3 linked regions of the Homo sapiens genome follow. The protein of the gene in region 1 interacts with the protein of each later gene in a biochemical or structural test. Each region holds a gene or a part of one and is shown in the gene's direction. Other genes may lie near its edges.

Region 1 (3,652 bases):
GGTCTCTCACGTCTTTAAATAAGATCCTCTAGAGCTTCAGCACACCTATAGTGGCCTGGATGGGCATGTGCCAAGTGTGTAGGGTTGCATACCAGGCCTCTGGGTCAATGGAAAGCCAGAAACAGTGGGGAGAAGAGGGAAGTGCATGGGACGGTGGTGTCTGTTGGACCAGCATGGGTGGCCTAGGCTGCCCAGAACATGAAAGGTGTCCATTTCTTCATAACTCTGGCCGTGGACATGAAGGCCAATTTGGGTTACCTGATAGTTGCCCATTTTATTGACTTAAGGATTTGTTTATATATAGTTAAGATAAATAGAATATGGTAACTTCCTTTAAAGGCTGTGTGTGTGTGTGTAAGAGAGAGAGAGAGAGACAGACAGAAACAGAAGAGAGAGGAGAGAGAGATAGACATACCAATTAAGTTTTTCTTTTTCTTTTTTTTAATGATTTCTTTGCAGCTCTTGAGAAAGTCTATTTTACAAAGAGGAAAACCTGTGGTTGAAGGCTCTTTGGAAAAGAAACCCCCATTTGAAAAACCTAGCATTGAACAGGTAAAAAGATTTTAAAAGCCCTCTTTTTATTGGCTCAAGGCTGAAGAAATCTTTTAATCCTCCTTTTATATCTCTATCTACGGCTTCCCTCCTCCATACCCAGGTTAGAGATGTTTACCAGTCTGTGGAAATTGTCCTGGAGGCTTTGGATCAGAGGTGTATACCTAATTTAATACATGATCTAGCTTTTGCCTTTTAGGGTTGTTACATACTCACAGTTTACTGTGTGTTTGGGGAAGAAAAACATTAAGTAGAACATGTAGTTTGTAAGAAGAACACATGAAATGTGCTTTTTCTTGTTGTTGGTGCTTTAAAATGAAGTCTTTGTCCATTTGCTTGGCACTGTCTGAGAAAGCCTATTGAGGTGAGGGGATTTAGTAGCAATGTGAAAAACATTGTAAGTCAAGCAAAAAAAGCAAAAAAGAAATGAGATTTTGTACCCAGAAATGGACTTCCTGCTACATTATGATTCCTGGAAAGAAGCCGTTTTACTCAGGGAATCTGTTAAAATGTAAAGAGTTTTTCTGTTAGGTGTTGTCAGTATCTCTCATTAGCATCACTTTTTTAGCCTTTGATTGTTTGGCTAAACAAAAACACTCTGGACTGAATTTTTTGATGAGAATGACTACTGAAGTCATGATACCAGAATCCTTAAAAATAAATGCATTTTTATCAGTCAGTTTTCAGTAAATTTTATTTTGCCTCCAAACTCTATTAAATAAGAATTCATTGCTCTTTTATTTGAAATTAGATGAGATGGAAATATTCTGTAGAAAGATTAAATTAACAGTTTTTTTAAAAGCCCATAATTTTGAATGATATATATATTTTGGTAAGCTTATTGACTTCAAACAAATGATAGTAAAGAGTTTAAATTTTAGTTGTTTAGTTCAGTGGTAGGCATGATAGCAGGTTTTTGATTAGCATTTTTGTAATGTAAAAACAATATTTATCTAAGAACTGCATTATATGTGGGCTACTCTGCTGATAGTAAAGCAATAATTATTCTGCACAACAGTCATATTTTCTTGTTTCAGGGGTTTTGACCTTTTCAGTCCATGGTTTTGATTTTCTCCTTAATGCTTCAGGATTTCAGCAGGCGTAGAATCACAACTCACAGCCTCTCTGTCTTGTCACTTTTCATCCACCGTGATCTGAGGCAAGATTCCCTCTGGGGATTGCTATTTTCTTTTAGGGAAAAGGAAGAGATTTTTGTGAATAGAGAAATGTCTGTTATTTTGCTAATAACCACCAATCATGCTGGCTGTGTGGGTGTTCAGAATTAGTATGATTGCATAGCTGCATGAAGAAATTGCCTTCCCTCTTTTTAAGGGTGTGAATAACTTTGTGCAGTACAAATTTAGTCACCTGCCAGCAAAAGAAAGGCAAACAATAGTTGAGTTGGCAAAAATGTTCCTAAACCGCATCAACTATTGGCATCTGGAGGCACCATCTCAACGAAGACTGCGATCTCCCAATGATGATATTTCTGGATACAAAGAGAACTACACAAGGTAATCAGATGCAAGTTCTTTTCCTTTGGCCCCATAAAGCCTGTTACAGACCTAAAATTGTACTTGACTCTATAAGTATAGGGCTGCCTAGTTATCATTATGACTCCATCAATTCAGAGATAATGTCTTTATAATTTAACTTGCAAACTCCTGCTTTTCATTGCTATCATAATATGTTGAGGTGTGAGGGATGTAAATCATCTATACCCAGTGTGATAGCCACTAGCTATATGAGCACTTGAAAATGTGGCTAGTTTGAATTGAGATTTCTATGATTGTACCAAAAAGGAGTTTAAAATTGCTCATTAATACTTTTAAAATATTGATTACATGTAGAAATGATAGTACATTGGATACATTGGATTAAATAAAATATATTGAAGTTAATTTTACCTGTTTTTACCATTCCAGTGTGGCTACTAGAAAATTTAAAATCCATATGTGGCTTGTGTTATTTATCTATTGAATATAGTTGACTAGATAGCTACACTATAACTCTGAAATTAATTAGAGCCCTCACTCAAAAAATGCAATGACCATATAATGAAGTTAAAGAATTTTTTTTAGGCTGGGCATGGTGGCTCACACCTGTAATCCTAGCACTTTGGGAGTCTAAAGTGGGTAGATCACTTGGGTCAGGAGTTCAAGACCAGCCTGGCCAATATGGTGAAACCCCATCTCTACTAAAAATACAAAAATTAACTGGGCATGGTGTCACGTGACTGTAATCCTGGCTACTTGGGAGGCTGAGGCAGGAGAATCACTTGAACCCTGGAGGCAGAGTTTGCAGTGAACTGAGATCGTGCACTCTGGGCAACAGAGCAAGACTCTGTCTCAAAAAAAAAATTTTTTTTAAAGGAAAGATTAGCTTAGTTCCAGAACTGTGATGGAACTGACATCATTATACATATTATCTTCCAGGTTTTGTCCTTTTAAATAACATTTTACATTAGTTATAATGAAAGAAAATGTAGAATTTTGTAGCCTTTATGTCTCTTCACTTAATATCATATCAAACATTTCACAGGTTACATTATAGTCCATTGAGTTGATTTACCACAATTTACCTAACCATTTCTCTATTGCTGGACATTCAAACTCTGCAGATAGTCTTGGATTGAACATATATTTTCTTCTAAAGTGGAAATTTATTTTTATTGCTTATTACTTGCAGAATAACAGAATTGGTTTTACAAATCTTAAACTTGTACCATACAAAATATAAGGACCTACATTTATTTTCATCTGAAGGACTGTGACTTGGGTCATCCATTCTTTTCAACTTTTTTATAACTTTTCTATAACTTTTCTCTGTTTATATTTCAGAGGCACATCAAGCTTGCATTAGGGAGCTTTAGTGCCTACTTTTTTCCTGATTTAAAGTGGGCAGTAGTATCTTTTGATAGCCTGTCAAGACCACTTGTGCCCAGGTTATTTTCTGTAACAGCAGATAACATGGAAGAATTGTATAATTTAAAATAAGCTTTCCTCTCTGACATTGACCTAGTTTCATGTGTAACACACCCTTTTCCTCTCTTTCTCTTCACTTTTGCAAATATATGCAATTTCAGTTATAAAGTATTTTC
Region 2 (3,652 bases), 1.7 Mb from region 1:
TTGTAGGAGGGTCTCAGATACTCCAAATAACAAAATTACTAAAGTCTTTTTGTGGGTTTTTATTAACATTTTCATCTTATTTTTCATGTGCATGGTTTCTGTCTGATAGGTGCTAAATGAAAATTATGGCTGAGATGAGAAAACACTACTAAGAAAAAGGGATTGAATGGTTTTATTTGTTTAGGCGATTTTGCCAGAATACCTTCAAGCCAAGGAAGGAATCGCCAGTTTGCATATTGCTATTTTTGCTGTGGTCTCCCCAAGTTGTCTTCTGATCCCCGACGGGTTCTTTCTCTGGTATAAAACAGCTGAATGAATGACAAAAATATTGGCAAGCTCTGCGGCTTGTTTTTCATGCCTAGCCTATTGGTACCTCCGAATGAGTTTGTGAGTTTTTCTAAGTAAACCTAAAGGGTTTTGTCAGACCTAGAATCTCTTGTGAACAGTTCACTAAAGCTTTGGTGAAGACTCACATGTAGAAAGATGTAGCTGTTTTATTGCCGGCTTTTGTTCAGCAGAAACAAGCAAATAGAGAATCTTTGAAGGGCCTCTCTGGTGTCAGTAGGAAATCCTGATTTTTAGCTACGGTTGGTGTGCACTAAGTCATCTTCAGAAGTTGGTAGGATTCTGTGAGTCCAGAGGACAGAGCTTATAGAGGCATTAGTATTGTAGGACTAATTGTGGATCCTGGGTGCCCTGTTAAAGTAACCCTTGTCATCATTTATGCTAAAGATGATACCCTTCTGGCAGTTTGCCACAGTACAATTCAGATGCATCTGCTTTTAACCCTTTTCCGTTATCATTGGAAGTCTGACAGTGCGCTGCATAAACACCTTGAGTACCACAGCATTCCGTAATATCAATTTCTAGAAGAAGCCTCTTTCTAATAGTAGTGTGGCCGGTGCTTATTAATCATCTAGCTACTGAGTTACTGTATTGGATTAAAATATATAAAGAGAGAGCACACCAAATCTATGCAGATTCCTTTATCCTAGTATGTCAGTTTCCTTTTCTATCTCTCATTTTTACCTTATTTACTGTAACAAAGATTGTTGATTTTAAAGACTTATGGGTACCGTGCTCTCTTTTTAGTTAGGTAGGTTAAATGAGTATTCATAAAAGCAAATGTTATTTTTCTACATTATGCAGATATTGAAATTGTGTATTATGAGCACCAGTTTGGTTAAGTACTTTTTGTGGAACCAGTTAGAGCTAATATCTAAAAAAGGAAGAAAATGATTTGTGGAACCAGTTAGAGTTAATATCTAAAAAAGGAAGAAAATGAAAATTTCGTGGTCGAAGATAATTTGTTTGGACACAAACCCAGGAAAAGTTTATTATTAACAAAATCATGTAAGCAGTAGAAAGGTGGGTTCTTCTGAAGATAAATGGTGAGTTATGTTTGCATACTGTATACTACTCATAGCAAATTAGAGAAGATACATTTATTTCTCTTTCGTCACCATTATTATTTGATCAGAAAGGTAATTCTGCATTCATTGCTTTTGGAAAATGCACTGTTAATTTAGAGCACAGCTTACCTTAGGACCAAGTTCATATTCTACTTAAATATTTCTGTTACGACTTTAAATAATATGAGAATGTATATATTTGTGTGCATTTGCCTGTACTGTACCCAGTCTGCCTTGGAAGCACAGTGAATCTCTTGTGATTATTTATTTTCATGGCTAATATTTCCTCCCGCCACCCCCAAGCTGTATTTCTGAAGATTGTTGGTTTTCCATCTCTTCTTCTTCATCTTTTTGATAGGAACCATGCTGCCAGTTTTCTGTGTGGTGGAACATTATGAAAACGCCATTGAATATGATTGCAAGGAGGAGCATGCAGAATTTGTGCTGGTGAGAAAGGATATGCTTTTCAACCAGCTGATCGAAATGGCATTGCTGTCTCTAGGTTATTCACATAGCTCTGCTGCCCAGGCCAAAGGTAAATAATGTGTACGTGGGGTTGGAAAAATTGCTTAGCATTCTTTGTTTACCTTGCAGAGAAAGCACTGAATATTTTTATTCAAAGAACTGTAGCCTGTGTATTACATTGGTTCCTTATAGGCTGTGGCTTTAAAAAATTGGCTTAATTCAGTTTGGTTTAGTTAACACACATTTTGCTCATGTGGAATGTCGAGGTAGATTTTTTTTTTAAATTACTTCAGCTGAATCATTAGTATGCTTATTGACCTTAATAATCTGCTCCACTGAGGACCCACAAGGAAGTGAGGAGCGTATTTGAGCAGATGGACTGTTGAGAGTCAATTTGCATTTATGACTGAATATCTAGTTCTGTTTCTTTTATTCTGTTTCTGATGGTTTTATGGGCTGCAAAGTATTTTTCAATGCTGATTCCCACTGCAATAGAGAATCTTATCTAAATCATAAAGCCATTTAGAACTGGTTCGGCTATGTCTTATTAGAACTTCCTGTAAGTTAGGAAAATGTGGCCTTATGCATAGGTTTTATTGATGGGGTTTTATTTCCAAAATAATAAACAACCCTACAGTCATTTACATAATTTTACAATTTGGAAAGCTAAGCTGTGAATATTTTCATTGACCTGCCTTTTAGAGGGAAGGGAATCATTCAAACAGAAATAACGGTACTGCTTGTGGTAGGGGTAGTAGAAAAGAAAAGAACACCCTTCTAGTAGATATATTATCTGAGGGTAAAATATTTAGTGACATATTCTCTTTATCTGAAATAGGGCTAATCCAGGTTGGAAAGTGGAATCCAGTTCCACTGTCTTACGTGACAGATGCCCCTGATGCTACAGTAGCAGATATGCTTCAAGATGTGTATCATGTGGTCACATTGAAAATTCAGTTACACAGGTGAGTCAAGACAGCAAATCTAGGGTGAAACATTCTTCTTACCTGGTCTTTTGAAATGAAGCATTTCTCTCTGGTCGACCTTCAATTTTTTTTTAGTCTGTGTTTCAGAAAGGTTAATACAGATCGATTTTGTTACCCTATCCTTCTGCCTTTTTTCCTAACTTCAATGTATAATTTAAAAGCAATCCCCCCCCCCACACACACAAAAAATGTGTAGGTTTGTGCAGGTTATCAAAAGACAAGACTTTTTACGTTTAGTCAATTAAATAATGCATCACAAGAAGGCATTTTACATAAAGTTTACTTAAGAAAAAAATATTTTTGCATATCATGAACAGTGCCATCTGTGTACATTTTGTGAAAGACTGTCTTATTCACTATTACCACAGTCTTATTTATTTATTTATTTTTTTATGATTTTTAATTCATATGAACAGAGTAATGAAAGGAAATCGGTTAATACATTAAAGCTTTTCATGATGGCTCAGGAGAAAGCAGTACACCTTAAATTGTCTTCCCAAGCGCATCAGAGCAGGAAGGTAGAAGTAACATGAAAAAATAGCCACCACAGGCAGCTGATGTATAATTCATGCATCGATACAGCAGATGTGTTGTATAAAGTAATTAACTAATCGGAACAATCAGGAGACCGAGAGCAATCTCCAGATGCATCTGTTTGATGCGCAAAATGAAATCTGTCTGTCTTAAAGGAATGTTCTGCAGCGGGATGCAATCTTGTAATAATCCCCTTTCTAATCTATGTCTCAAATAGTTGCCCCAAACTAGAAGACTTGCCTCCCGAACAATGGT
Region 3 (3,752 bases), on another chromosome or scaffold:
CTCCATCCGGAGGGATGGAGGCTCTCTCTCTCCATTACAGCTAAGCGTTCCCAGACCCAGCAGAAACCCTGGGTTCCTGCAGAGCACTCAACGTGCAGCAAAGTGTCCCAGCTCTGCAAAGGGCAGCTGGAAATGGATTTAAAATGGCAACGCGGACCAATCAGCGCTGCCGCGCCAAAGCAGACATTTACACGCGCCTCCTCCACATGCACAGCGGAACCTGGCGGTGCCTAACTCCTGCTTAGGGCTGCAAAGTAGGCGTTTTTATTCCACGGTGGTCTGTATCTTTGAAAAAAATAAATTCTTCCCCAGGTGAAAGTTTTTATTTTGGAATTAGTCCAAAATAATTTTGGGTGTGATGTGTGAAAATCTGAACCTAATTTTTTCAGAGTTTTGTGTTATTCAAGGATGAAAAGAGGTACATTTAAAAATGTACTCCACCTTTTAAAAACGGACTGTGGCCATTATGGTGTTCACATAACTCAGAACAGCCCAGGCCATAAAATTAGGACTTGGCAGAAAGAGAGTTCTCAGGCAGAAGGTTAAATCGAGGTAAACTGAAGGGAGAGTTGGGCAGTGAGTGCAATTGTGGTGTTAGGAATCTACAAGGTGCCCTTTACCCTGGGAACATCGGATTCCCGGGGAGGGGGATGGGGAGGGAACTTCGGTTGCCTCTAGTCTTTCCTGGAGAAAAAAGTTCAATGAAGAAGCTGGGGCGCTCTGTGTGTGCACATTGTTTGCATGTGTCTGCGAATGTGCATGTCTATCTGCGTGCCTGTGTGTATGTGTGTGTGTGTAAATGCGGGTGTTTACCAGCGCATGAATGCCCCCGTGTCCACGTGTATCTGCGTGCATGTGCTTACACGCGTGTTCGTGTGTATCTGCATGCATGTCTCCGTGTATGTGCGCGCTCGCCCGCCCGCAGGCTCTGTGGTGAGGGCATTCCGAGGCGGAGTACGGCTGTCAGGGGACCTCTCCCACTCCACTGCAGTCCCTTCCCACTCACAGTGAACCGGTGCGCTGCCTGAGGTGCAGCCTAGACGCTTCCTGCAAAGTGTTGGCTCGGCACGGTAGAGGCGCAGGTAAAGGCCAAGCCCCGAAACGTGGCTCCGGGACAGTCACGTTCCCGCGCCTTCCCAGGACAACTGCCCAGGGGTGACCTCGAGAGGCGGGTGGAGCTAGGCCCACGGCGAGCCAGCCCGGGATCCCCGGCCTGTCCCTTTAACCCCGCCGCCGGGCGGGAGCACGTGAGCGGGGCTCCGGGTGGCACCCGGGCGCCGCCGCCGCCGAGGCAGTTGTATTTCGAACGCTGCCTCTGGCTAGCAGCCAGGCGCCTTGGCTCGGCGGTCCGCCTGGCCTCCCTCCTCCTCATACTTTTCTTCCTGCGCAACCCCCTCCCCTTTATCCGCCCACGATTAGAGGTGGGCACTCCCCCCACCACCACCCCCTCCCCAAGCGCAAGCGCGTGCACGCACACACACCACACACACTCACACTCACACACACTCACACACACTCATCCCACTTGAATCTTGGGGCAGGAACTCAGAAAACTTCCAGCCCGGGCAGCGCGCGCTTGGTGCAAGACTCAGGAGCTAGCAGCCCGTCCCCCTCCGACTCTCCGGTGCCGCCGCTGCCTGCTCCCGCCACCCTAGGAGGCGCGGTGCCACCCACTACTCTGTCCTCTGCCTGTGCTCCGTGCCCGACCCTATCCCGGCGGAGTCTCCCCATCCTCCTTTGCTTTCCGACTGCCCAAGGCACTTTCAATCTCAATCTCTTCTCTCTCTCTCTCTCTCTCTCTCTCTCTCTCTCTCTCTCTCTCTCTCTCTCTCTCGCAGGGTGGGGGGAAGAGGAGGAGGAATTCTTTCCCCGCCTAACATTTCAAGGGACACAATTCACTCCAAGTCTCTTCCCTTTCCAAGCCGCTTCCGAAGTGCTCCCGGTGCCCGCAACTCCTGATCCCAACCCGCGAGAGGAGCCTCTGCGACCTCAAAGCCTCTCTTCCTTCTCCCTCGCTTCCCTCCTCCTCTTGCTACCTCCACCTCCACCGCCACCTCCACCTCCGGCACCCACCCACCGCCGCCGCCGCCACCGGCAGCGCCTCCTCCTCTCCTCCTCCTCCTCCCCTCTTCTCTTTTTGGCAGCCGCTGGACGTCCGGTGTTGATGGTGGCAGCGGCGGCAGCCTAAGCAACAGCAGCCCTCGCAGCCCGCCAGCTCGCGCTCGCCCCGCCGGCGTCCCCAGCCCTATCACCTCATCTCCCGAAAGGTGCTGGGCAGCTCCGGGGCGGTCGAGGCGAAGCGGCTGCAGCGGCGGTAGCGGCGGCGGGAGGCAGGATGAGCGCACGCGGTGAGGGCGCGGGGCAGCCGTCCACTTCAGCCCAGGGACAACCTGCCGCCCCAGCGCCTCAGAAGAGAGGACGCGGCCGCCCCAGGAAGCAGCAGCAAGTCAGTACGAGGGCGCGGTGGGGGCACCAGCCCACCCCGTCCCCACTGCCGGGGCCCAGACACGCGCGGGGCGGCCGGAGTGCGGGAGCCCAGTCGCCGCGGCCGTCGCACACTGCCCGCCGGCCGGCCGGGGGGAGCGGCGCAGACCCCACGAGTGCGCCGCGCGGCCCCGGGGCGCCAGCAACCCTCCGGGCGGGGAGGTGGGGAGCCGCGGCGGGCGGCCCGGGGAAGGCGGGAGGTGGGGTCGGGCGAAGCGCGTCCTCGGACTTTCGCTATTGTGCACGGCCCCGAGTGGCGCGGTGTCGCCCAGTGACTGGAAGCGACCGGGATCCGACAAACCCGGGCTCGCAGGCGCTTTCCGAGTTGCTTTTGCAACTGCCCGGGAGGAAGGAGGTGCCGGGGACCCGGGCGCTTCGGCCGATCTGGGCTGAAGGGGCTAGAGTCTTGGGGGCCGGAGGCTCTTTCTCCCGCCTCCCGGGGCTGCTCGCGGGTCGGGGGCTGGCGCGCCGCAGCCGCCCCCTTGGCGCCCTCCTCCAAGCTCTCGGTGGCCCAAGACTCGCGCCCTCCCGACAAAGAACGCATGGAGACCCGGCTGCCTGGTCCTTTTTGGGCTCTTTAAATATGCGGCGGCCGCCGGAGGGAGCCCGGGGCAGGGGCTACGGGGAGCCTGGTTCCCCGCAGGACGGGGTTAACTCGCCCAGCTAAGGGCGCGTTGAAAGGAGTGTCCAAGAGAGTGCAGGGTAGCCAGGGTCGCTTCCTTGTCAGGGGCCCGGTCCCCCTTTTGCCCCTGGATCTCGCGCCTCAGAGCTGCAGCCATTAAATGCTCTTCTCCAAGGCCAGTGGCCGGGGGTTGAGTAGGGGACGATCGAGGGGCGCCCGGGACCCTGCGGAGTGGAGGGTTTTGTCTGCGGATGCAACCAATTAAGCGTGCAGCCGGCGCTTGCAGAGCTGCGCTCAGCGCGCAGGGCTGGGGGTTTTGTTCGCTGTAATTTCCAAGCCGCGGCGGGCAGAGTTGGAGCGGGATATGTCTATTGAGAACATTTAAACTCCACTTTCTCGGGCTTTAAAACTTGCTCTCTGCTTAGTCTTAAATCGCTTCCTTCATGGCAAACACGCCGATTAGAAAATAATCCTAGAGTCCCAAAGTTGTCCGAGAGCAAGGTGGGGAAACTGAACAATGTTTGCTTGCCAGTGCATTTTAGAAAAATTGAGAGTTGTACCTTTTTGAAATCATCAAAGGAAACAAGCCGATCTAGAGGCCCCTGAGTTTTCCCGCTCTGCCCAAGCGACACTTTACACCGCATTT

The links.
Region 2: of the proteins of KAT2B (region 1) and SATB1, one has a biochemical effect on the other in vitro, tested with the Homo sapiens proteins (2 studies listed by BioGRID, with this or other methods).
Region 3: the proteins of KAT2B (region 1) and HMGA2 form a complex in vitro, tested with the Homo sapiens proteins (one study listed by BioGRID).

Annotation. Positions count from the first base shown.
Region 1 is NC_000003.12:20,099,403-20,103,054, forward strand, and holds part of KAT2B (histone acetyltransferase KAT2B), read left to right. Parts: intron 1-459; coding exon 460-552; intron 553-1,884; coding exon 1,885-2,066; intron 2,067-3,652. UniProt on the Homo sapiens protein: Functions as a histone acetyltransferase (HAT) to promote transcriptional activation. Has significant histone acetyltransferase activity with core histones (H3 and H4), and also with nucleosome core particles.
Region 2 is NC_000003.12:18,415,197-18,418,848, reverse strand, and holds part of SATB1 (DNA-binding protein SATB1), read left to right. Parts: intron 1-1,770; coding exon 1,771-1,947; intron 1,948-2,715; coding exon 2,716-2,842; intron 2,843-3,614; coding exon 3,615-3,652. UniProt on the Homo sapiens protein: Crucial silencing factor contributing to the initiation of X inactivation mediated by Xist RNA that occurs during embryogenesis and in lymphoma.
Region 3 is NC_000012.12:65,822,936-65,826,687, forward strand, and holds the start of HMGA2 (high mobility group protein HMGI-C), read left to right. Parts: upstream 1-1,547; 5' UTR 1,548-2,335; coding exon 2,336-2,446; intron 2,447-3,752.